7 linked regions of the Homo sapiens genome follow. The protein of the gene in region 1 purifies or fractionates together with the protein of each later gene. This does not show direct contact. Each region holds a gene or a part of one and is shown on either strand. Other genes may lie near its edges.

Region 1 (3,500 bases):
ATCTGAAGAGGAAGGGAGATGAAGCTGGGTGCCGAGGAGGAGGAAAGGTTAGAAAGTGGCCTGAGCAGCTCTATAAAACGATTCACTTCATTTCTTTTGTTTTGTTTTGTTTTAAGACAGAGTCTTGCTCTGTGGCCCAGGCTGGACTGCAATGGTGCGATCTCAGCTCACTGCAACTTCCAGCCTCCTGGGTTCAAGCGATTCTCCTGCCTCAGCCTCCTGAGTAGCTGGGTCTACAGGCACGTGCCACCATGCCCAGCTAATTTTTGTATTTTTAGTAGAGGCGGGGTTTCACCATGTTGGCCAGGAGGGTCTCCATCTCTTGACCTCGTGATCTGCCCGCCTCGGCCTCCCAAAATGCTGGGATTACAGGCATGAGCCACCGTGCCCGGCCTCACTTCATTTCTTCATCATAGCCTGCTATGCTGCTGCTTTCTCTTGGAAGATACTAATCAGTTCTAGGCCCTTTGTAGGTCAAATCTAAGATCTGGGGCAAATACCTGTTTTCATCGAAAATGACTTTTTCCTTAAATTAATGCTTGCAATTTTGTGCTATTTATTGTTGAAAACCAGCAGAATCTTGTACAGTCAGATGGAAATCTGCATGTCTTAGATTGTGGATCTTTAGGTATCTTTATACAGTAAAATCTCACTGACCACTGTATATGAACTAGTATTGTTCATAATACTTCATCAGTACTCATTCCTTGAAAGAACATAATCATCTTCCTAAGTCCCTGAGGGCATAAAAGACATCTAACTGAGTCTCCATCTGCACTCAGTGTGGGTCACTAATTTTACACAGGGCTTCAAAAAAAAAAACTTTAGTGTGACGCCGTCATGAAAAGTAGGTTGGTACGTTTTTAATCACAAAAATAGACATAATATTTGAAACCTGTAAATAAAAATATTTTACAATTCTTTGAAATTAAATATTTCAGACTGCTTTGCCAGCAACATGCTCAATTCCCGATCATCGCTCAAAGTGGTAAGTTTCTAAAATTTAGCACTGTGGGTTTTAAAGAAAGGTAAACATTTATGTAACATAAGGAATAGTCTAATTTTCTAGCCTCGTTGAATTAAAATACAAATGTTTGAGTTAAAATTTTACACATCTAGAAAATTGACAACTTCTTTGTGTACTATGTGATATGACTGACTAATTTTTTCTTCTTTATGAACAAGACCTATTCTCTTTGAACCATTCCCTGGTATCTTTCATTCTCCCTACGCTCACAGAACCAAACTAAGACATGGGAAAAAGCCTTGACTTTTGGGACTGCTTCTCTTCCATAAGAATTTTCAGTAGATAAAATTTTAAAAGTGCTGCACCTTCCCTGAGTGAAAATTCCCTAAGGATGCATGGTTAGCATTTCAGTTCTAATTAAGGCAGACTGGATCCTGGCTAACTGGAGTCATGGGGTATACTTTCATTCATGAGTGGAACAGCAGTGTCTTAGCAGCACTACATCTGCAATGTTCATTGTGAAGTGGAGTCAGGACCTCGTTGGAAGACTTCGTTCTGCGTCATGCCAACTGCATTTTATGGTGATAACATTCTCCAAATAGCACCTCTACAATCATTTTTCAGTCGTTACCCTTTTAACTCAGCAGGAAAGGCTATTACAGATACTTCTTTAAATCAGTGTTTATTGACAGGGAAAAGCACCAGCAATACACACTTAACCAAATCCTTGCAAATGTCATCTATTAAATATCTTCATCCTTATTAGTCTGTTTTACTTTGAATATCTTCTGAGTGAAATTGAGTGCATTCCCATATCTTTTCACCAATTATATTTGTTTTCCTATGACCCAATTTGTTCATTTTTCTATTCAATGAACCCTCTCCCCAGAGAGTTCCCCATGTGCCAATTTTTCTACTCAATTATTTACCTGTTTTGCATTAAACTTATAATATCTTTTTTAAAAATTAACCCTTTATCATAAGTGCTGCAAACACTTAGTTGAAGTTTGCCATATCTTTTGACTTTGTAAAAACTTTTGGCATATGAGTTGTATATTTCATGTAGTCAAACAGTAATCTTTTCCTTTATGGATTCCAATTTTTAAATGGTTTATATTTTTAGCTAAATTTTCAGGAGTGAAAAGAAAAAGAGGAAGGAAGAAACCCCTCTCAGGCAATCATGTACAGGTAATTTGACTTAGTTTTTATAGCTTTGCATTTCTTCATACAGAGTCCTTATTTAAACCAGTCTGAATGTCAGGTGAAAGGTACTTTCCAAATCGTCCAAACAGAGAGCCTTTGAAGAACATTCTTCATTTGTGTTCTCAGCTAAGGCTGCTCCTGAGGTTGCCTTTTTAGGAAGAATCCCATAGTCGGGAAGCTCTTAGATAATTCCTAGATGATAGAATCATGATGAGATGAGCATGAAAATGAAGCTGGAAGTTCCAAGCACATAACCTTCAGGAGGTGACATTCTCCGAGCTCCTATAAATTCCCTGGCACCAAACTAGTGAGAGCATCTGACCCCACAGGTGCTTACAGTTAAAACGGGCAGAGGGTGCAGTCAAACATCCTTATGGAGCCAAGTATTTCCCAGCTGCATGACCCACACCTGACCAAATCTGTAGCTCTTATAAATTTCTGGATTATGTATAAAATGTATGAAAATATTTTGGGGATTTGAGTTTTTACACATCAGCACATATAAGCTAAATTCATATGCGCCAGCAACCTTCACCTCCTCCTGTTTATACAAGGGGTGCTTGTCAAACACCTCTTAATGTTTTATAATACAAAACAAAAATATATTTGATGTTTACATCTAAATATGAATATGGGGTTTTTTTGTTTTTTTTTTTTTTTGAGACAGAGTCTCTCTCTGTCACCCAGGATGGAGTGCAATGGTGTGATCTAAGCTCACTGCAACCTCTGCCTCCTGGATTCAAGTGATTCTCCTGCCCCAGCCTCCTGAGTAGCTGGGATTACAGGCATGCACCACCACGCCTGGCTAATTTTTGTATTTTTAGTAGCAACAAGGTTTCACCCTGTTGTCCAGGCTGGTCTCGAACTCCTGACCTTGTGATCTGCCCATCTTGCCCTCCCAAAGTGCTGAGATTACAGGCGTGAGACACCGCGCCCAGCCAGGGCATGATTTTTACTGTAGGCATATCATTTAGTTATGCACAGCAAAAGACTGGTTTTCATTTTATGCAATATTAAAATCAATGTAATGCAATCTTGATTTTCTCTCCTAGCCACCCGAAACAATGAAATGTAATACATTCATAAGACAAGTGAAAGAAGAGCATGGCAGACACACAGGTTTGCGCTAAGTGTTGTCTGTAACAAATATGGCCTACAATACTTATAAAAATGTCAACCCACCTGTTTCAAACTTGGTATCCCGCCTAAATCTTTATTCTTCTAGGCTTGTGGTAATTAATGAGTATAAATCTTTATCGCAACTGTCCACTCTATTGTAATCCCAGCATATCAAGATAACTTAGGTTGGAATGGTCCATTGCATTCAGTA
Region 2 (3,500 bases), on another chromosome or scaffold:
CCTCCCCCCACCCCACGACAGGCCCCAGTGTGTGATCTTCCCCAACCTGTGTCCAAGTGTTCTCATTGTTCAATTCCCACCTATGAGTGAGAACATGTGGTGTTTGGTTTTCTGTCCTTGCGGTAGTTTGCTCAGAATTATGGTTTCCAGCTTCATCCATGTCCCTACAAAGGACGTGAACTCATCCTTTTTTATGGCTGCATAGTATTCCATGGTGTATATGTGCCACATTTTCTTAATCCAGTCTATCATTGATGGACATTTGGGTTGGTTCCAAGTCTTTGCTGTTGTGAATAGTGCCACAATAAACATACGTGTGCATACGTCTTTATAGCAGCATGATTTATAATCCGTTGGGTATATACCCAGTAATGGGATGGCTGGGTCAAATGGTATTTCTAGTTCTAGATCCTTGAGGGATCGCCACACTGTCTTCCACAATGGCTGAACTAGTTTACAGTCCTGCCAACGGTGTAAAAGTATTCCTATTTCTCCACATCCTCTCCAGCACCTGTTGTTTCCTGACTTTTTAATGATCGCCATTCTAAGTGGCCTGAGATCACTGTGGTTTTAATTTGCATTTCTCTGATGGCCAGTGATGGTGAGCATTTTTTTCATGTGTCTGTTGGCTGCATAAATGTCTTCTTTTGAGAAGTGTCTGTTCATATCCTTTGCCCACTTTTTGATGGGGATGTTTGATTTTTTCTTGTAAATTTGTTTGAGTTCTTTGTAGATTCTGTATATTAGCCCTTTGTCAGATGGGTAGATTGTAAAAATTTTCTCCCATTCTGTAGGTTGCCTGTTCACTCTGATAGTAGTTTCTTTTGCTGTGCAGAAGCTCTTGAGTTTAATTAGATCCCATCTGTCAATTTTGGCTTTTGTTGCCATTGCTTTTGGTGTTTTAGTCATGAAGTCTTTGCCCACGCCTATGTCCTGAATGGTATTGCCTAGGTTTTCTTCTAGGGTTTTTATGGTTTTAGGTCTAACATTTAAGTCTTTAATCCATCTTGAATTAATTTTTGTATAAGGTGTAAGGAAGGGATCCAGTTTCAGCTTTCTACATATGGCTAGCCAGTTTTCCCAGCACCATTTATTAAAAAGGGAATCCTTTCCCCATTTATTGTTTTTGTCAGATTTGTCAAAGATCAGGTGATTGTAGATGTGTGGTATTATTTCTGAGGGCTCTGTTCTGTTCCATTGGTCTATATTTCTGTTTTGGTACCAGTACCATGCTGTTTTGGTTACTGTAGCATTGTAGTATAGTTTGAAGTCAGGTAGCGTGATGCCTCCGGCTTTTTTCTTTTGGCTTAGGTTTTTCTTGGTAATGTGGGCTCTTTTTTGGTTCCATATGAACTTTAAAGTAATTTTTTCCAATTCTGTGAAAAAAGTCATTGGTAGCTTGATGGGGATGGCATTGAATCTATAAATTACCTTGGGCAGTATGGCCATTTTCACGATATTGATTCTTCCTACCCATGAGCATGGACTGTTCTTCCATTTGTTTGTGTTCTCTTTTATTTCCTTGAGCAGTTGTTTGTAGTTCTTGAAGAGGTCCTTCACATCTCTTGTAAGTTGGATTCCTAGGTATTTTATTCTCTTTGAAGCAATTGTGAATGGGAGTTCACTCGTGATTTGGCTCTCTGTTTGTCTGTTATTGGTGTATAGGAATGCTTGTGATTTTTGCACATTGATTTTGTATCCTGAGACTTTGCTGAAGTTGCTTATCAGCTTAAGGAGATTTTTTACATTTTTTTTAAAAAAGTACTTTAACAATATTGCTCTTCTGTCTTCTGACTTTCATTGTGACTGAGAAGTTTTTTGTTAATCTTATGATTTTTGTTCTTTGAATAATGTCCTTTCTTCTCTGAGGCTGTTTTTAAGATTCTCTTTCACTGGTTTTCAAGAATTTGATAATGATGTGCCTCTCTGTAGTTTTCTTCATGTTTCTTTTTTTCACGTTCACTGAGCTTCTTGGATACGTGTGTTTATAGCTTTACATCATGCTTGGAAATAATTTGGTCATTATGTCAATTATTTTTTTCCACCACCAATCCTGCAGGACTTTAATTATATATATATGAGGACATTTGATATTTTCCACAGTTATTTCATGCTGCATTCATTTTTTTCCGTTTTCTTTTATGTTTTATTTTAAATTATTTATTTTGATGTATTAAAATTTATCGGTCTTTTTGTAATGCAGTGCCTAATCTGCTGTTAACTCCACCTAATTTTTTTAATGTTTAGTAGTCCAATGTGGATCTTTTTTATATTATCTATTTCTCTCCTGTGTTCATGCTTTCCTCTAACTTCTTGAATATACCTTGTATATTTTATATGTTTCTAATAGATGCACATTTACCTACTAATTTTTTTATCAGTGTTGTCTCTTGGTCTGTTTCTACTAATTTATATTTCTCTTCATTATTAGTCGTATCGTCCATTGCATGACTATTCATTTTTCGTTGAATGCCATGAATTGTGATTTTATATTGTTGAGTTTTAGATTTTCGCTAGGGTATTACTTAAAATATTTGGAGTTTTGTTCTGAGATGAAATTATTTGGAAACAATTTAATACATCCAAGCCTTGCTTTTAAACTCTTTGAGAATAACCTGTACTTTGAGGCTAATTTTATCCCACTACTAAGGCAATATTCTGCAGTATCTATCTGATGGCCTCTATATCAGGAGAGCTTTTCACTCTGGTTTTGTTAGTGGAACACAAAACATTACCATCCCTATGAGAGCTCCCAAAATTGCCAGCCTGCTCCTTTCTAGTCATTATTTCCTAAGTCTTGGTAGCTTCTTCACATACAGGCACACTGATCAGTTTTCACCCAAAGGCTTTTGGGAAAACCTCTACAGCTGTCCTGACCTCTCTCTATCTATGTAGCTCTCTTCTGTCTGATACTCTGCCCCACAAACTCTGGGTGCCTTTGCCTATATTTACTCTAAACTTTATCACCTTATCTTGGTGAGACTGCTGGGATCTGTTTAGCTTCCTTTTACTTATCCCGTGACCAAGAAAATCTCTCCAGGCAGTGAGCTAGGCACTTGTAGGGCCCATATCATTTGCTTCCCTTTTCTGGGGTCACTGTCCTGTGCTGCCAGTCGTCCATCATGGCCAGAAACAGAAGTCCCTCTATTTTATTTTCTTGAAAATAATGGTTGTACATCTCTGTCCATTGAAATAGGGTTTTTTTATTTTTTTGTTTTTTCAGTAACAGTTAAAAAGTCATTCAGAGCCGAATTGGCTTAATTAGGGCAATCAAACTAGGAGTGACTAAAAAGGAATGAAAGTTATTTTCTCATGCAGCCTGTAAACTAACTCTTTTCTTGCCAACAGGTACAGGACACAATATCCAATCCTAGGCCTCCTATATGATGACTACGAATATATACCACCAGGTAGTGAAACACAGACTATTGTGATTGAGAAAACAGAAGACAAATACACTTGTGTAAGTTCACTTGGGCATTTTTAGCCCTATTTTGACG
Region 3 (4,058 bases), on another chromosome or scaffold:
ACAATCCCCCTCCTTGATTTCGTACTTGAAGGAATAAAACGTGTCAGAGCCAACCTGAAAAGCAGCCAAAGATACTTAGGGTTCATCCAACTGACCCAACAGCAAATAATTCTAGTGGGTTCCGGTAAAGTTAGGAATATTGATCTTTGACTTGAGAGCAAAGCATTCACTTAAAATATATTTATATTTCTATCATAAACATTTATGTGAAAGAATGTTTATAATATATTCACAATGTACTTTTAAAGGTTACAAAGCAGTATGCATAGTATTAGCCCATTTTTGTCAAAACTGGTTTATATATAAATCTATGTCTTTTAAAAGTCTGGAAAGATACACAGCAAGCTGTTAAAATGTTTGTCTGTCAGTGGTGAGATTATAATTATCTTTCACTTTCTTCTTCAAGCAAACATTTCTTTTTTTTTTTTTTGAGATGGAGTCTCGCTCTGTCGCCCAGGCTGGAGTGCAGTGGCGTGATCTCGGCTCACTGCAAGCTCTGCCTCCCGGGTTCACGCCATTCTCCTGCCTCAGCCTCCAGAGTAGCTGGGACTACAGGCGCCCTCCACCACGCCTGGCTACTTTTTTGTATTTTTTAGTAGAGACTGAGTTTCACCATGGTCTCGATCTCCTGACTTCGTGATCCCCCCGCCTTGGCCTCCCAAAGTGCTGGGATTACAGGCATGAGCCACCGCGCCCGGCCCAAGCAAACATTTCTAAGTGGTCTTTTTCCCCTAATGAACGTATATGACTTTTACAAATTAGAAAAAGCAAACAAGAAAACCTTAAACAAATGTTAACAGTTATCTCTGTATGGTGGAATTAATTATGGGTGATTTTAGTACTTTTATTTGGTTTATTTTGTTTCCTACTTTTTCTTTTTTAAACAGCTTTATTGAGATATAATTTACATGCCATAAAATTTACCCACTAAAGGCATACAATTTAATGTTTTTTAGTATATTTACAACCATACCCACAATCTATTGGGTACCACACCACCAATAAACTGTTGCTTGAGATCACCATGAAGCAGAATTTCTCACATGACTGTACTAGATTATGAAAGAAAATGGCTCGATTTTACTTTCAGAAAAAATAACATGTCCACTGTGTTTATTTTCCTTTATCCCCATGTTGTCACATGGCTAGTTTTTTTTTTTCTGCTAAAGTAACCAATTGCTTGACATTCCCAGAGATATAGTCTTTTATAGTGAAATTTGTTTAAACATACTCTTGAAAGATTGGTATTTCTTTGAACCATGCATCCTGCCAGGATTTGTCTCCTGCTGGAGTGCATCATTGCAATAATATCAAAAACTAACTAAAACGTTGCTGTTAAACCCAGTACATTCAGCCATACAGACTTCTGTCTAATTCCGTAGAATCACATTAACCTCATTCCTCACTCCTCTTAGACATGCCCCATGAAGTACCCCCTCCCATTAAAGGTTTGGAGTTCTATAGTTTTTAGCCTAGGGCCAGAGACCCAGTGAATTCTTTTGCTGCAGTCTAACTAAATTCCTAAATTCTCCCTCTCTACTTGGTCCTGTTGAGATTTCTCCATCTACTTTTGTTTCATTTCACCCTAGATTCTACTTCTCTGATCATCCAGGAAGCCAACCTGCCTGAGGACGAGTCATACTCTGTCCTCCCACCCCAGGCCAGAGAGTGGTATCTGTCTTTCCACAAGTTGTAAGCTTCTACCTTTGATGATCACATATTTGGTAGTGCGTGATGGTGGTGGGTGGTGGGTGGCGGTGGTGGTGGGTGGTGAGGGGTGGTAGTGGTGGTGGGTGGTGGTGGGTGGTGGTGGTGGTGGGTGGTGGGTGGTGGTGGGTGGTGGTGGTGGTGGGTGGTGGGTGGTAGGTGGTGGGTGATGGTGGTGGGTGGTGGGTGGTGGGTGGTGGTGGGTGGTGGGTGATGGTGGTGGGTGGTGGGTGGTGGTGGTTGGGTGGTGGTGGTGGATGGTGGTGGTGGTGGGTGATGGTGGTGGGTGGTGGGTGGCGGTGGTGGTGGGTGGTGAGGGGTGGTAGTGGTGGTGGGTGGTGGTTGGTGGTGGTGGATGGTGGTGGTTGGTGGTGGTGGGTGGTGGGTGGTGGGTGATGGTGGTGGGTGATGGTGGCGAGTGGTGGTGGGTGGTGGGTGATGGTGGTGGGTGGTGGTGGGTGATGATGGTGGGTGGTGGTGGGTGGTGGGTGGTGGGTGATGGTGGTGGGTGGTGGTGGGTGGTGGGTGGTGGTGGATGGTGGTGGTGGTGGTGGGTGGTGGTGGTGGTTGTGGTGGTGGTGGTGGGTGATGGTGGTGGGTGGTGGGTGGTGGTGGTGGGTGCTGGTGGTGGTATGTGTGTGTGTGTGTGAGGCCTGGACTCCTAGTGATAGTACAAATCCCAAGTGACTTCAAGGTTAAACACAATTCACTCACCGTCTTAGTGGCTTCAGTTATGCGGTACAATACAAACTGGTTGTTACTTTGGTTTTGACTGTTATATTTCTTCAGAGCAGCATCCACAGCTTTAAATAAATCCTTGTCATTGCAGTCAATTTCCTCGGACTGTGATTCCTGGGTTAAACTTAGTAGCAGCCTGGAGCAGAGGAAAAGGATGGTAATTAGTTTCATGATCTAACAATCTCCCTCTAGGAGCTGAGGGATGGTTTCACCAAGAATCAAGAGCCAACTGGGATACTGAATTTGACAATCTCCAGCCTCTTGTTTCTTCTGTCCTCCTCTCTGCCTCAGAACTCAGGGCACTGGTTGGATTCCTGCTGCCAGACGCTAGTTGCCTTGTTCCCAAAGGTTAAATGGCTCTGCTGGGTTATCCAAACATATTTACAGCTAGAACATTGCAACACTGGGGTTGTTAACCTGCTCATTTGCATTTGAAAATCACGTGGCAGCACAGTGCATATTTCCAGGTGATTATACAACTTTATGTAGCAAATCAGAGCAGAATCTGATGAAGGAGGGGAAACAAGTGCCTACTAACTCGGTTATTCCCCTGTGACTTTTGCAAAGCCATTTTTGAAGGTCACTACATGGGTAAACAATGCAAGAATGAGTACAATGTGCAGACACATTTCATACAAAGTTTCTTTGCAGGATACCTACCTGCATAGAAGCAGACTGCTGTTAATTCTATTACATGCCTAAGAAGCTCATGCACAGGGGCATCCAGTGAGTTCCAGGAGTCCCATGCAGGACATTGGCACAACTGAAAATAAAATATGGGCGTCCTATCTGCTCTCTGGACAGGCCAGCCTTTCTCTGCTCAGTTGCATTAGTTCTGTAAAAGAAAATTGCTCCCAGGGTGGAGATAGAGGAAAAGCATAGGAAGGGATGGGTTGAGTGAAGCCCTGGATTCCCTATGCTTGCTTCTTTCTGGTTTGGTGTTGTTGGTTTGGCACAGAAAAAGATAGCCCCAAATATGGCTCTTTGGCATGCCGAGTACTTTGAACTGAAAGACATTAAAAAGGCTGCAAAAGCAAAGTCTCTTTCTTGCTTTCTCCTGCCCGTCTTTCTCCTGCTCCACTTCTCTCAAGGCAGGCCACAGAAGCTAGAATTTCTCTTCCCCAAGGCGGGTCATAGAACCCTTCTCCCTCAAAGCCAGCAATAAAACTTTATTATTCTTATTTTCCTCACATCAACACAGAGTGGGGAAACTATATTACAGAATGGTCCCCACCTGTAGACCAACATTGGAAAACTACAGTTGATAATCTCAGCAGAAGTGTGAGGCTTGATGGTATCAACATCCTTACTCCAGTAAAAATTGGCCAGGCACGGTGGCTCACACCTGTAATCCCAGCACTTTGGGAGGCTGAGATGGGTGGATCACCTGAGGTCGGGAGTTCGAGACCAGCCTGACCAACATGGAGAAACCCCATCTCCACTAAAAATACAAAATTAGCCGGGCGTAGTGGCACATGCCTGTAATCCTAGTTGCTCGGGAAGCTGAGGCAGGAGAATTGCTGGAACCCGGGAGGTGGAGATTGCAGTGAGCTGAGATTGCGCCATTGCAATCCAGCCTGGGCAACAAGAGCAAAACTCTGTCCAAAAAAAAA
Region 4 (3,500 bases), on another chromosome or scaffold:
AATGCCAAGGCCGAGGGTGTGGTTATGTCCTGTATGTGGGAGTAGTGACAAAACAGCACATGGTGTGATAGAATGAGATGGACTGGAGGGGGAGGTAAACATAACTGTGTCAAGTCGGTGACTCATGAGATCAAGAGGTCTAACGGCTCCTCGCCAGGAATCATGAGCTCACTAAGGATGATCATGAGAGAGGACAAGGAAAGGAAGCCAATGCTGAAGCTGAGGGAATTACACAAAATAGTCCAGATACACACATGCAGAGATTACGGGAAAGGTGCCAGCCACTGGGGAAAAATCACTTGGTATCTGAAGAGAAAAAAGTATATTAGGAAAACACACTTCAAGCTAAGAAGAGATTGGTTGCAAAGTTTTTTCAAATTGTAATATTGAAGTACACACCTCCTAGCTTTGTGGTATGGCAAGTGGGTTATAGCTAATTTAAAATTAACCCAAAAAATGACAAAATTTTGTCTTCCAGTTCATCTTAAAACTAAATTCCTGAAAACAATCTTGAGTACCACAATTTTTAAAAACTAATTACACTGACATTTCCAGTTCCTGGGTCCTAGTTATCAAGGCTGTGTGTGTGTGTGTGTGTGTGTGTGTGTGTGTGTGTGTACAATATAAACCAAATACAACCAGATCCATTAACACTTGATGAATTTAGGTGAAACTCTCACTTACGTATGGAAAATCCCAGAAAGATCTGGAGCTGGAACAGAGGATTCTGCTTGTATTCCATGGGCTTATTATTCAACTGTGGATCAAGTTAAGGTAAAATACAAATCATTTGTTTTGTGACACTTCCCAAAATAGACACACAATTGAAGGAAGACAAGGTTAGTGTTTTCCTGTGGTCCAATTCTACGTTAAAATCCTAGGAAAATAAACTGTTTGCAATCTACTTTAGCAACTATGCTGCTACCTATGACACACAAGACAAAAATCTAACATTTCCTAATATGATACAGCTCAAAGGCCTTTCAAGATATTTGGGAAGTTTAGATTTTTGTCTTGTGGGTCACAGGTAGCCACTGAAAAATTGACCAAGAATGGCAGTATATTTGCATTTCAGATCCTTCATTCTGGTGGAATGAAGGAAGGCTTGGAGGGGGAAGAGACTGGAGGTTGGGAGGCCGTTGTAATACGTGAGGCAAATTTCAAGGACCTCTACTGTAAGGAGGGAGAAAAGAAATGGAGTCGGTTATAGATAGGTGGGTGAAGTGCCTGAGTGAGCCGGGGGAAGTAGCTCCTTGATAATTCAGTGTTCTGGCTCAAACAAATGAGTAAATCTGGTATTTGTGGTCCTATTTATTATTACACATTTCATTCATCTATGGATTTTTAGGGACTGCCATAGCGCTTGGCTCACACTCAAGAGTTCATGAGTTTATGGAACAAACCAACACTGTTCATTTGGGATTCTTTTAAAATCACTGCTCATTAGCTGAGCTAATTTTTGCCTCTGCAGACATTTCTGTTATGTCAGCATCACCCACATGACCTACCTACTACTCACCATTGTTCCAATTTAACTACTTCAAGTGAAAAGTTACTAAATTGGCAGTACCACATTGGGCAAAGTCTGTTACTTCAATTGGTCTCTCCAAAATTCCTGAGGCCCTGGGTGCAAAGTCTCAGTTCTCTGAAATCCTGACCTAATTCACAAGGGTTACTGAAGATTTTTCTTGTTTCCAGGACCTCTACAGTGGATTAATTGGCCCCCTGATTGTTTGTCGAAGACCTTACTTGAAAGTATTCAATCCCAGAAGGAAACTGGAATTTGCCCTTCTGTTTCTAGTTTTTGATGAGAATGAATCTTGGTACTTAGATGACAACATCAAAACATACTCTGATCACCCCGAGAAAGTAAACAAAGATGATGAGGAATTCATAGAAAGCAATAAAATGCATGGTATGTCACATTATTCTAAAACAATTTTTCTACTTTTTTATCATTTTCTCTTTCAAATAAAATTATTTTGGAGACCATTCATTTGTTTTGTCTTAAAATAAACCACTTCTGCCTCACTTTGTATGTCAGGTAGAATCCTGTTCAAAACAAAAAGGGGACTATGTTCAAAATCATTTGCTAATTTATTTTCCAATTCCAAAATCTCATTTCCTTTGAAATAATCCAAAACTAAGATTAAGGCTTTTGGTGCAAAGTGCCTAGAAAAGCAATGTGATATTATTGACTTTAAAGTATCCATTTCTCTCATTTGTAGTAAAATAAGTCCTATTACATCAAAAAGATTCTTTACATTAACCTAATAATCATATTTTCTTTGAAATAGCTATTGGTTTAAAATATCCTGAAAAGTAACATAAAACCATATGCTTTCCCTAGCTATTAATGGAAGAATGTTTGGAAACCTACAAGGCCTCACAATGCACGTGGGAGATGAAGTCAACTGGTATCTGATGGGAATGGGCAATGAAATAGACTTACACACTGTACATTTTCACGGCCATAGCTTCCAATACAAGGTAAGAGCTATCCATGGCAATTACTCTTGCTCTGTTTGAAAATGTTTTAATACAAGTGAAGAAAATATTTTCTCAGAGAGACTTATGAAAAAAAGCTGCAAAGAGTACAGCCGGTGCTTCATATCCGTGGATTCCCCACCCAGGATTCAATCATGGATTGAAAATATTCAGGAAAAAATAATTCCACTAAGTTCCAAAAAGCAAAACTTGGATCTGCTGCACTGAGTACTATGTTGAATCCATGCAAATGAAATGATATGTAGGCACTGTATTAGGTATTATAATAATCTAGAGATGATTTAAAGTATATGGAAGGATGTGCATAAGTTAAATGGAAATATGCCATTTTATATAAGGGACTTGAGCATCCATGGATTTTGGTATGGGGGCATTCCTGAAACCAATCCTCCATAGATACTGAGGGATGCCTATATAAGGCACAGCAATTTCAATTGACACACTAGCCTTTGTTACACATTGAGCTCTTCCTAGGATTTGCATTTTTAACTGAATTTTCATGGAGTTCTGCTCAGATTCCTGATTAAGGCAACTGAGCGGAATTGCTAACAAAGAGGGTAGGAATGTTCACATAATGATGGATGAGAGTAGAGACCACAACAAGACTTTATTATAACCCTTGCCCTGCCTGTTCTAAGTTCTGTATCTTAAATGGCCCATGGTGAGCAAGATCAGTTAGGTGACAAGCAACTGGTCTGTACATCTCAATCTTACTTCTATTCTTTCTCAGTACTGATTTCAGCAGAAGCCAGTGGCCCTCCTGGAAATGCTTTTTCCTTATGCTTTGGGCTAATTTAGAAAAGGCAGAAGTTATCAAAAAGCATACTGCAGAAAGCCTGTTTTGTTACCTGCATTTTGTTTTACATAGATATATTGTATTCTTAGTGGGCTTTCAATTCTATCCTTGCAGAAATAGACTATTGTCACCCAACTACTGTTTCCAGCCGAGACTCCCTGAAGTGCCTCTGGTTTTTGTCGTTTTCATCAGCCTC
Region 5 (3,500 bases), on another chromosome or scaffold:
ACTGTGAGCCACCTGATTCCAGACGTCCATCTGAAATAGTAAGTAAAGAGGGCACCTTCACTCTGCTCTTTTCATTCTTATTTTCCATCTACTCTGTTCACTCAGCCAATGCCTGGGCTAACACAGTAGAAGAGAAAGGGCAGCTTTTGCCTTGAGATTCATGAAGATGATGTTAACCTTGAGCAATACTCTTGAGAGTCTTTCCTGGGAACCCAGTTCAAGACAACTCAGCAGGGTGTGTGGTCCCATCAAAGAGCATAACCAGCTGTGGGTCCTTGGGTAAATCATCTAATAACATCCCTCCACTTTGGTGTTTTTTGACTGTAAAATAAGAAGTGGGTTTAGGAATTCATGGACTCTAAGGGCCTTCCACTCTTGACAGTCTACAGGTATCAGAATCTATGAACTTGTAATTGTGTCCTATGAACAATGGTCCTATTTTCAGGAATGGCCAAAGTAATTACTTGCAGTGAGGAATTGGGTCTTGCTCAGCACCTAGGATATACACTGAGGAATAAGATCTGGCTTTGCATGTGGGAGGTGGGTATTGACATGCCAGGCTCTCTGACACAGGTGGAGAACATGAAGATGAATAAGCAGAGATTCAAGATTTCATTTCCAGAAAATGAGAGGTTCACACTCCTGGAACTTTCACCACTTTTTCCCTTGAAAATGTTTGGGGTATGGCCATGATGCTTTAAATAGTTTCTCGCTGGTTCTCCTGAGGATTTTGAGTGCCAACAGGATGCAGCACACAGAAACTGACTAAGAAAATGCAGGGTTTGAGACAAGCTTTGATGAAAGAAATGCATTTTTAAATGAACAGTAGGAGGATGTTGCATCACCTTTTTGCTCTTTCATATCTGACCTGAGGAAGGCAGGATGCAATGACTCAGCAAGTCCTCAAGAGCCTCTTTCTTACAGGTGATCGGACAATGTAAGGTAATAGCTACAAGACATTCCCATGAATCTCAGGACCTCAGAGTGATTGACTTTAACTGCACCACAAGTTCTGGTATGGTAATCTGTTAAATTGCTAATTAATTCTTGATTAATACAAATTCAATCATACAGTGGTATTTGTCTCATCTATGTACATATGTATTCATATATATTCAGATGTATTCATGTATATCTATGATGTACATGAAAGAAAAGCCTTCATAGACTCCATTATTATTCATTCTCCAGAGAATAGAATTGAGACAAATTTCCCTGGTACTGGTACACCTTCTTTTAAAGAAATTCAACACATAAAAATAGAGATTTAGGAGAGGTAGGTTAGCCTCATTATAGATATAGGCTTTGGAGTCAGGCTTGCTTTAGCTTGAGTCATCATCTGCCAGTTGTATAGTCTTGGGAGGAAGTAAAGTCTTGGGACTATGAAGTAAAGGTTATGACACTTTCTATTTAAGACAAAATAATTGATGCTCAAAGAAGTTAAATGACTTGGCCTCAAGAACAAAGCCAAGATATTGTGAAGATGTGACACAATCCCAGGAGTATTAACTCTAAATTCCACAGCTTTTTTATTTATTTATTTTTATTTTTGAGACAGAGTGTCGCTCTTGCTACCCAGGCTGGAGTGCAATAGTGTGATCTCGGGTCACTGCAACCTCCACCTCCCGGGTTCAAGCAATTCTCCTGTCTCAGCCTCCCAAGTAGCTAGGATTACAGGCATATGCCACCACATCCAACAAATTTTGTATTTTTAGTAGAGATGGAGTTTCTCCATGTTGGTCAGGCTGGCCTCAAACTCTTGACCTCAGGTGATCTGCCCACCTTGACCTCCCAAAGTGCTGGGATTACAGGTGTGAGCCACCACGCCCAGCCTCCATACCCTTTTAATTTACATTTTCAAATAGAATTATCACAGGATTCCTTTTTAAAATAGCAAATCCAAATATGATATTATATACAAAAATGCAAGATACTGCCACAGGAGTTTGCATTGAAGAAAGGATGATCTGTATCTTCTCCTCTCTCTGGGCAAAACTCTATGTTAATGCTCTGTCTTCCCCCTTGGCAACAACAGGAAGAACTTATTAAAATATTAGTGGCCTGGTGCGGTGGCTCACATCTATAATCCCAGCACTTTGGGAGGTTGAGGCCAGAGGGTTGCTTGAGCCCAGGAGTTTGAGACTAGCCTGGGCAATGTGACTCAACCCCATCTCTATTATTTAATATATATGTTAATATATATATCATATTAATACCTAAATATATGATTATATAATATAAAAACATATGATATATTATATAATATATAAATATATAATAGATATTATATAATAGATAATATATATTTATATATTAACGAATGTCATAGTTGTCATATTTATATATATATGTTAGCACTTTATCAGTGGTACTGGTGAAGGCATCATGAGTAGGGGTCACAACATAGACATGGGGATCAGAAAGACTCGAAGGAAGAATCAGCAGTTTAGTTCGGTTGCCAAATGGCTGATTGATCTTGAAGCAGTTACTCAGCTCTTCCCACCCTCAATTTGCCCATCCTTAAAATGAAAGTTATTGTCATTCTTGCCACCAAGCCACCATTAACATTTCCAGCCCTTTACTGTGACACTGCTATCTTCTTTCTCCAGTCTCTTCAGCACTGGCCAATACCAAAGATAGTCCGGTCCTCATAGATTTCTTTGAGGATACTGAGCGCTACAGAAAACAAGCCAACAAAGCCCTTGAGAAGTACAAAGAGGAGAATGATGACTTTGCCTCTTTCAGAGTGGACCGAATCGAGAGAGTTGCAAGAGTGGTGAGTCTCCACTAAGGTTCGGTTGGAGTCTGAAGGCCCAGGCTCCAACCTGGCAGCAGGAACTGAATGGCATACCCTCTCCACCTGCCTCAATTGACTAGCTGCCTTTTAATTTGTCACTTTTGAGGCCATAAAAGACAGGCAGCAGGTATTTAAAAAATACAAAAAAATTGCTTTCCTCAAACACTTTTTTTTTTTTTTGAAGGATGGGTAGGGGAGTAGACATCTGACAGAGTAGGGAGAAAATCTAAAGAGGAAACAGGGAAAGACAAGAACATATGAGGGTTGTGTCATTGCAAATCATCCAATACTAACATTCTTGTACTATGATGGAAAACTGAAGTTCAGAGAAATTACCTCACCACACCCAGTAATGTGCCTATAGTTAGATGGTTCCCTGCTCTCTCTACAAGGACCCAAGTACTTTCACCCAGAGCTGTCTTGTAGAGCAACTGGTTGACATTTGCTATGCATTCAGAAAATGCAGCGTTAAATAGATTGTGTTGCATACAAGTAAGGAAATGAGTACCATGCAGTTGCTCAAAGAATGTTTGGACCCATGCGCACTGGAGTTTGAAAACATATTGGTATAGGAAAATGCAGGTTATAGAACAGTACTTAGACTATGGACCCATTTATATGAAACACTTAGATCTCCCTGTGTATGTGTAACACATCTAGGAAAACACTCGAAGAGGAAACACATCAAATAAATGAGAATGAA
Region 6 (3,500 bases), on another chromosome or scaffold:
GGAGGAGGAAGGAGGAGGAGGAAGGAGGAGGAGGAGGAAGGAGGAGGAGGAGGAAGGAGGAGGAGGAGGAAGGAGGAGGAGGAGGAAGGAGGAGGAGGAGGAAGGAGGAGGAGGAGGAAGGAGGAGGAGGAGGAAGGAGGAGGAGGAAGGAGGAGGAGGAGGAAGGAGGAAGAGGAAGAAGAAGAAAAGAAGAAAAGAGAGAGACAGACACCATGAAGGCACCTGGGGAAAAACAGAGAGGTAGGAAAAGAACACAAAGCCAGGCCAAGCGCAGTGGCTCACACCTGTAATCCAAGCACTTTGGGAGGCTGAGGCGGGCGGATCACAAGGTCAAGAGATGGAGACCAGCCTGGCCAACATGGCAAAACCCTGTCTCTACTAAAAGTACAAAAATTAGCTGGGTGTGGTGGCGTGCGCCCATAGTCCCAGATACCTGGGAGGCTGAGGTAGGAGAATTGCTTGAACCCGGGAGGTGGAGGTTGCAGTGAGCCGAGATCGCGCCACTGCACTCCAGCCTGGCGGCAAAGTGATACTCTATCTCAAAAAAAAAAAAAAGAAAAAGAACACAAAGCCATGGGAGTGGAGACTTCCAGGGACCATGGTCTTTATCTTCATTCTGACTATATATGAGTATAAGCAAGCACCAAGGAGAGGGACATTTGGGACAAGATAAATCATTTGCAGTAGTTCTTGTAGGAACATGGTAGCCACTAAATTCTGAATCTTTCCATTTTTCTCCTGAAAACTTTACAAAACACCAAGAATAGCACCAGCACCATTACATTTTTGGTGGAAATAGGGGACAGAAAATCTACAAATTCCAAATTACATTTGAAGGCTGCTAAAGAAGACTTGGGTGGAAAGGTGTGAGGAGAATGGAGGAGGAGCTCAGAAATCTCCAGCAAAGACTCCCAAGAGAGAGCCTTGCCCAGGAATGACGAGCTACGAGCAGGGCTGGAACCAAACAGGTCAAAAGTCCTGTGATCCCAGCACTGTGGGAGGCCAAGGCAGGCGGAACACTTGAGGCCAGGAGTTCAAGACCAGCTTGGCCAATGTGGTGAAACCCTGTCTCTACTAAAAACACAAAAAATTAGTTGGGTGTGGTGGCGCGCACCTGTAATCCCAGCTACTCAGGTGGCTGAGGCACGAGAATCGCTTGAATCCGGGAGGTTGGAGGTTGCAGTGAGCTGAGATCACACCACTGAACTCCAGCCTGGGAGACAGAATGAGACTCTGTCTCAAAAAATTAAAATAAAATGATAAAGTAAAATAAAAATACAACTTTTAATAAAAGCTGGGAGAGGCAGCAAGAGGGTGCATGCATAGTGTGGGGAGGCCTGAGATGGCTGGTCTCAGCAAAGGCCAGAAACATGCAACTTCTGGAATTGAGTGGGTGGCTTTAGAAGTCAGGACTGTGCTTTTAGCGCTGGTAGCAGGTGGTAACCTGGGTTACCAGTGGAACCTCTAATTTCTCTGGTTGGGTACTAACTAAGGTGACTATAGGTTTTGGTTTGCCCATAACAGACCTGATTAACACTTGCTCATTAATAATGCTGAATTTCACTTCCAAAAGTGTCCCAGCTTAGGCAAATTACAAAGCTACCCTGGTCCTGTCTAAGTGCAGTTGCTCGCTATGTAGCCTGGAGCAAATCTTTTAAGTTCTATGATCCCTTATCTCACCGAGCTGTTTTAAGGAAAATATGTGAGCCACCTGGAGTATTTCCTAACATTTGCAGCTAATCAATACATGGTAGCAGGACCATGAGGACAGTTCTGTCCTTGTAGAATTCCCTAAGCAGAGGTCCTGGGGGCTGTAGATTAAGTGGCATCAGAAAAGGACAACTGTGTAGAACAGGACAAGTCCAAAACTGAGAAGTCTCTGCTTTACTTAGAGGCTAATAATATTGTAAAAGAGCAAGAGGAAAATACTTCCAAATGCCAGAATAATTTTACATTTATGATGAGAAGAAACAATTATTACCCATAAATGTGCTTTGAAATTCACATCAAATGACTTTTCCATAAGCTCATCTGGACAGTCAAGGAACTTTTTGCCTGTTACGATTCCGGCATTGTTGATTAGGATGGAAACATCGCCGACTTCTTTTTTAACCTGAATTGAATAAGAGCAACACCACCAATGTAGTAATTCCTTACATGGGCTAGGTTTTATTTTCCCAGAGTTTTATGTTTTTTTTATCCTGGTTAATTCATACTGAGTTTATGCACTCTAAAAATACAGCTTGGGGCCAGGCGCAGTGGCTCACACCTGTAATCCCAGCACTCTGGCAGGCCGAGGCAGGGGGGTGACTTGAGGACAGGAGTTTGAGACCAGCCTGGCCAACATGGCAAAATCCTGTCTCTATTAAAATTACAAAAATTAGCCAGGCATGGTGATGCGTGCCTCTAGCCCCAGCTACTCGGGAGGCTGAGGCAGGAGAATTGCTTAAACCAGGGAGGTGGAGGTTGTAGTGAGCCAAGATCACACCACTGCACTCCAGCCTGGGTGACAGAGTGAGACTGCATCTAAAAAAATAAATAAAGAAATAAATACAGGTTGGTTTATTTCCATTGCTGAGTCTACAATGCACCACACACCAAGTTTTTTTTTTTTTTTTTGAGATGGAGTCTTGCTCTGTCGACCAGGCTGGAGTGCAGTGGCACGATCTTGGCTCACTGCAAGCTCCGCCTCCTGGGTTCCCACCATTCTCCCGCCTCAGCCTCCCAAGTAGCTAGGACTACAGGTGCCCACCACCACACCCGGCTAATTTTTTGTATTTTTAGTAGAGACAGGTTTTCACCGTGTTAGCCAGGATGGTCTCGATCTCCTGACCTCATGATCCACCCGTCTTGGCCTCCCAAAGTGTTGGGATTACAGGCATGAGCCACTGCGCCTGACCTCCAGAGATCAAGTTTTGATGTGCTTTTCCCATTTTTCTCTTCTTAAAATGAGTCCATGTTCAAAATGCTACTTTCTGTTTACAGTTAGAGCTGTTCTTCTACTCAGTGGTTAGTAACTTTGTTCTGTGCTCTGTATGTGGCATTTCATTTTAATCAATATGATGGGACATAAGAATAGCTTCATTATAGCCAAATGTGACATAGATCAAGACCTCACACACGGAGAAGGGGCTGGATTAGGGAATAAATAGAGGAAAAGAGAAAGTACAGTCATAAATCACTTAACAATGGAGATACATTCTGAGAAGTGCATTGTTAGGTGACTTGGTTGCTATGTGAAGATCACAGAGTGTACTTAATAAACCTAGATGTGTGGCTACTACACATCTTAGGCCATATGGTAGAGCCTATTGCTCCTAGGCTACCCACCTGTACAGTGTGTTACTATACTGAACACTGTAGGCAACTGTTAACACATTGGTTAAGTATTTGTGTATCTAATCATAGAACATTGGGACAGTAAAAATACTGTAATAATCTGTCCCATAATGTGGGACCACCATTTTGTATATGGTCCATCACTGACCAAAATGTCATTA
Region 7 (3,933 bases), on another chromosome or scaffold:
AATCCCAGCTACTCAGGAGGCTGAGGCAGGAGAATCACTTGAACCTGGGGGGCAGAGATTGCAGTGAGCTAAGATCGTGCCACTGCACTCCAGCCTGGGTGACAGAGTAAGACTCCATCTCAAAAAAAAAAAAAATTGCACCTGTACTAAACATATACAGACTTTTTTGGTGATTACCTCCTAAACAATACAGTATAACAACCATTCACACAGCATTTCCGTCGTATTAGGTATTATAAGTAATCTAGAGATTTAAAGTATGTGGGAGGCTGTGCTTAGGTTATATGCAAATACTATGCCATTTTATATCAAGGACTTGAACATCCATGGATTTTGGTATCTGCAGAGGGTCCTGGAATCAATTTCCCATGGAGACTGAGAGATGACCGTACTACCCACTTCGCAAGCAATGTCTTCTTTAATGTACTGAACCATCCCATTGTTCAGAGGAGAAACTGAAGCTCAGGGCTTTGAATAACTAGACCAAGGAGGCACAGCATGGGAGTGGGACATGAAGCACTCTACAATTAACCCTTTCAGGACAAGGCCCTGTCTCCCACACCCATCTGCCCAAAGGCTCTCCAGGGCCCCCTCCTCTTGGGTGTACCTTGACAAGAGACCTAGATTTTAGCTCACTATGCTGTCTGCAGTCCTGGATGGTCCCACTCCAGTGTCTGGTGCTCTGAGATGGAGTCAGCATTAGTGGCGGATGTGGAGACTGGGGGGACCTGTCTTCACTGGGGTAGACAGAGGAGATGTGGACTTTGCCCCCCATGAGCCCGGCACAAACCCAGAGCCGCCAGCAGGGCCTCGAGGCATCAGTCCCGGGCTCATGGGCTCCCTGAGGTGTTTCTCCTACTGTTTTCCGTTCCCCTCCTCCCTTCCATGCTGAGGTTGGTGGGGTGGGGGTGGGGGTGCCCACGCACGGAACAGCCACCACTTCTAACTATCGCCTGAGCCCTGATCTGCTGTCAGCTTCCACGTAGTCTCAGGGTCACAAAAGTCCAAGAGGCCTCTTGGGAATGTGTCACCTTCCAGCGTGGAGTCACACTGAGGAAGGAGGAGGGGAGGGCAGCCAGGGGGGTGGCGATAGGGAGAGAGTTTAAATGTCTGGCTGGCTCTGAGCTTCAGTCAGTTCCCACTGCAGCGCAGGTGAGCTCTCCTGAGGACCTCTCTGTCAGCTCCCCTGATTGTAGGGAGGATCCAGTGTGGCAAGAAACTCCTCCAGCCCAGCAAGCAGCTCAGGATGTTCCTGAAGGCCGTGGTCCTGACCCTGGCCCTGGTGGCTGTCGCCGGTGAGTAGAAGCTGTCTTTGGATGGCACTCCTGGGCTGCTGCTCTGAGTAGTGCAGGATGGAGGCTGAGCCAAAGCAAAAGGACACTTCTGAGTGCCCATCAGCCCCCAGCTGGACATGAGGTCTGCCTGGCTGCCAAGTGGCTCACAGGAGAGCTGGCCCAGTCCCAGTGGTGGGCCCATTGGCATTGGTGCTATACCAGTTTCACATATCCCTGTGGCTTCCAAAAAGCTAAGCTCAGACAGGGAAAATGGCAGGTTGAGGCACCCCCACCATCATCCAGTCTGCAGCTCAGAGCTGGAGCAGAGGGGCCACACAGGAGACGGGGCCTCATGAATTGCTCTCTGTTACCACCCAGGAGCCAGGGCTGAGGTCAGTGCTGACCAGGTGGCCACGGTGATGTGGGACTACTTCAGCCAGCTGAGCAACAATGCCAAGGAGGCCGTGGAACATCTCCAGAAATCTGAACTCACCCAGCAACTCAAGTAAGAGGGACTACAGTGTGCGGTGGTGACGGGGAATTCTTAAAGGCCATGCAATGTACTGGCAAGGGTTGAGCTTAGAGACAGGAGCCCTGAGCTTAGGATACCCACTGCCCTGCCACTAACTGGCCGGGCCTCTGAACCTAGGATCCACATATGTAAACCGGAAGTTTGGACCGAATAATCCCTGCCATGTCCTTTTGCTTTGACGTTCTAGAGTTTGACAAATGGCCACATCCTATCATTCAGGCTCATGGAAGAGAGGGAGGGAGGAAAATGTCACGTGAGCTGATTTCTAATACGTTTCAGAAAGACAGGCCCCAGTGGAATCAAGGGGAGGGAGGTGGGAATATTTGGGAGGCCCCTGGGCACAGGCAAGGAAAGCAGCACCTTGTGCCACTGGAAGACCCCAGCAGAGGTCAAGAAGACAACATTGTGTTACACAATGTGATCCTATGGCCCAGAACACTCCCTCTGGGAAGGACCTCAAAGTCCCACCCTCTGCAGACAAGGAGGGGAAAGCAAACTGCTGGAGGTGACATGGTGGGTAGATTCTGAGACAAACTATGTGGGAGATCCTGAGATAGAAATTCAGCATCGTAACTTAGTCTGTGACACCCATCCTCTCCAATCTGCACCACCATAGGGAGGGTGAACTCGGTACCTCTGAGCACTCACCTGTCCTAGCACGTGTGCATAAGGCGAGTGGTATACAAGCAGACAAAGTCTTGCCGTGTAAATGCCAAATGTAACGTGGCCTCCTTGTGCCCTTCCCCACAGTGCCCTCTTCCAGGACAAACTTGGAGAAGTGAACACTTACGCAGGTGACCTGCAGAAGAAGCTGGTGCCCTTTGCCACCGAGCTGCATGAACGCCTGGCCAAGGACTCGGAGAAACTGAAGGAGGAGATTGGGAAGGAGCTGGAGGAGCTGAGGGCCCGGCTGCTGCCCCATGCCAATGAGGTGAGCCAGAAGATCGGGGACAACCTGCGAGAGCTTCAGCAGCGCCTGGAGCCCTACGCGGACCAGCTGCGCACCCAGGTCAGCACGCAGGCCGAGCAGCTGCGGCGCCAGCTGACCCCCTACGCACAGCGCATGGAGAGAGTGCTGCGGGAGAACGCCGACAGCCTGCAGGCCTCGCTGAGGCCCCACGCCGACGAGCTCAAGGCCAAGATCGACCAGAACGTGGAGGAGCTCAAGGGACGCCTTACGCCCTACGCTGACGAATTCAAAGTCAAGATTGACCAGACCGTGGAGGAGCTGCGCCGCAGCCTGGCTCCCTATGCTCAGGACACGCAGGAGAAGCTCAACCACCAGCTTGAGGGCCTGACCTTCCAGATGAAGAAGAACGCCGAGGAGCTCAAGGCCAGGATCTCGGCCAGTGCCGAGGAGCTGCGGCAGAGGCTGGCGCCCTTGGCCGAGGACGTGCGTGGCAACCTGAGGGGCAACACCGAGGGGCTGCAGAAGTCACTGGCAGAGCTGGGTGGGCACCTGGACCAGCAGGTGGAGGAGTTCCGACGCCGGGTGGAGCCCTACGGGGAAAACTTCAACAAAGCCCTGGTGCAGCAGATGGAACAGCTCAGGCAGAAACTGGGCCCCCATGCGGGGGACGTGGAAGGCCACTTGAGCTTCCTGGAGAAGGACCTGAGGGACAAGGTCAACTCCTTCTTCAGCACCTTCAAGGAGAAAGAGAGCCAGGACAAGACTCTCTCCCTCCCTGAGCTGGAGCAACAGCAGGAACAGCAGCAGGAGCAGCAGCAGGAGCAGGTGCAGATGCTGGCCCCTTTGGAGAGCTGAGCTGCCCCTGGTGCACTGGCCCCACCCTCGTGGACACCTGCCCTGCCCTGCCACCTGTCTGTCTGTCTGTCCCAAAGAAGTTCTGGTATGAACTTGAGGACACATGTCCAGTGGGAGGTGAGACCACCTCTCAATATTCAATAAAGCTGCTGAGAATCTAGCCTCAACTGGTTGCCGGATGAATCCTCCTTGCAGCTGGGGAGGTGGGGAGGTAACCATGACTGGGCAGAGCTTAGCAGCGGCCTGGCAGGAGACACCCAGGATTGGGGAGATGAGACTGCAGGAGAGGTAAGGGCCTGGTGGACTGGAGGCGAGTACATGGGGAGTCCTCTAAGGGGAGGCAGAAAAAGATGTCACACATT

Evidence for each region.
Region 2: the proteins of PHF11 (region 1) and POF1B purify together in Homo sapiens (affinity purification with mass spectrometry; one large-scale study listed by BioGRID and IntAct). This does not show direct contact.
Region 3: the proteins of PHF11 (region 1) and KNG1 purify together in Homo sapiens (affinity purification with mass spectrometry; one large-scale study listed by BioGRID and IntAct). This does not show direct contact.
Region 4: the proteins of PHF11 (region 1) and CP purify together in Homo sapiens (affinity purification with mass spectrometry; one large-scale study listed by BioGRID and IntAct). This does not show direct contact.
Region 5: the proteins of PHF11 (region 1) and HRG purify together in Homo sapiens (affinity purification with mass spectrometry; one large-scale study listed by BioGRID and IntAct). This does not show direct contact.
Region 6: the proteins of PHF11 (region 1) and SDR16C5 purify together in Homo sapiens (affinity purification with mass spectrometry; one large-scale study listed by BioGRID and IntAct). This does not show direct contact.
Region 7: the proteins of PHF11 (region 1) and APOA4 purify together in Homo sapiens (affinity purification with mass spectrometry; one large-scale study listed by BioGRID and IntAct). This does not show direct contact.

What each region holds. Positions count from the first base shown.
Region 1 is NC_000013.11:49,519,953-49,523,452, forward strand, and holds part of PHF11 (PHD finger protein 11), read left to right. Parts: intron 1-941; coding exon 942-988; intron 989-2,090; coding exon 2,091-2,155; intron 2,156-3,222; coding exon 3,223-3,289; intron 3,290-3,500. Other genes in the region: SETDB2-PHF11 protein, read left to right, coding at 942-988, 2,091-2,155, 3,223-3,289. UniProt on the Homo sapiens protein: Positive regulator of Th1-type cytokine gene expression.
Region 2 is NC_000023.11:85,282,166-85,285,665, reverse strand, and holds part of POF1B (protein POF1B), read left to right. Parts: intron 1-3,348; coding exon 3,349-3,463; coding exon of another isoform or gene 3,464-3,487; exon of another isoform or gene 3,488-3,500. UniProt on the Homo sapiens protein: Plays a key role in the organization of epithelial monolayers by regulating the actin cytoskeleton. May be involved in ovary development.
Region 3 is NC_000003.12:186,716,101-186,720,158, reverse strand, and holds the start of KNG1 (kininogen-1 isoform 1 precursor), read right to left. Parts: upstream 2,801-4,058; 5' UTR 2,617-2,800; coding exon 2,422-2,616; intron 55-2,421; coding exon 1-54. UniProt on the Homo sapiens protein: Kininogens are inhibitors of thiol proteases.
Region 4 is NC_000003.12:149,176,830-149,180,329, reverse strand, and holds part of CP (ceruloplasmin precursor), read left to right. Parts: intron 1-667; coding exon 668-774; intron 775-1,698; coding exon 1,699-1,915; intron 1,916-2,350; coding exon 2,351-2,490; intron 2,491-3,500. UniProt on the Homo sapiens protein: Multifunctional blue, copper-binding (6-7 atoms per molecule) glycoprotein. It has ferroxidase activity oxidizing Fe(2+) to Fe(3+) without releasing radical oxygen species. It is involved in iron transport across the cell membrane.
Region 5 is NC_000003.12:186,669,014-186,672,513, forward strand, and holds part of HRG (histidine-rich glycoprotein precursor), read left to right. Parts: coding exon 1-38; intron 39-924; coding exon 925-1,015; intron 1,016-2,609; coding exon 2,610-2,776; intron 2,777-3,500. UniProt on the Homo sapiens protein: Plasma glycoprotein that binds a number of ligands such as heme, heparin, heparan sulfate, thrombospondin, plasminogen, and divalent metal ions. Binds heparin and heparin/glycosaminoglycans in a zinc-dependent manner.
Region 6 is NC_000008.11:56,310,176-56,313,675, forward strand, and holds part of SDR16C5 (epidermal retinol dehydrogenase 2), read right to left. Parts: intron 2,114-3,500; coding exon 1,982-2,113; intron 1-1,981. UniProt on the Homo sapiens protein: Oxidoreductase with strong preference for NAD. Active in both the oxidative and reductive directions. Oxidizes all-trans-retinol in all-trans-retinaldehyde.
Region 7 is NC_000011.10:116,820,505-116,824,437, reverse strand, and holds APOA4 (apolipoprotein A-IV precursor), read left to right. Parts: upstream 1-1,133; 5' UTR 1,134-1,246; coding exon 1,247-1,295; intron 1,296-1,652; coding exon 1,653-1,779; intron 1,780-2,556; coding exon 2,557-3,571; 3' UTR 3,572-3,738; downstream 3,739-3,933. UniProt on the Homo sapiens protein: May have a role in chylomicrons and VLDL secretion and catabolism. Required for efficient activation of lipoprotein lipase by ApoC-II; potent activator of LCAT. Apoa-IV is a major component of HDL and chylomicrons.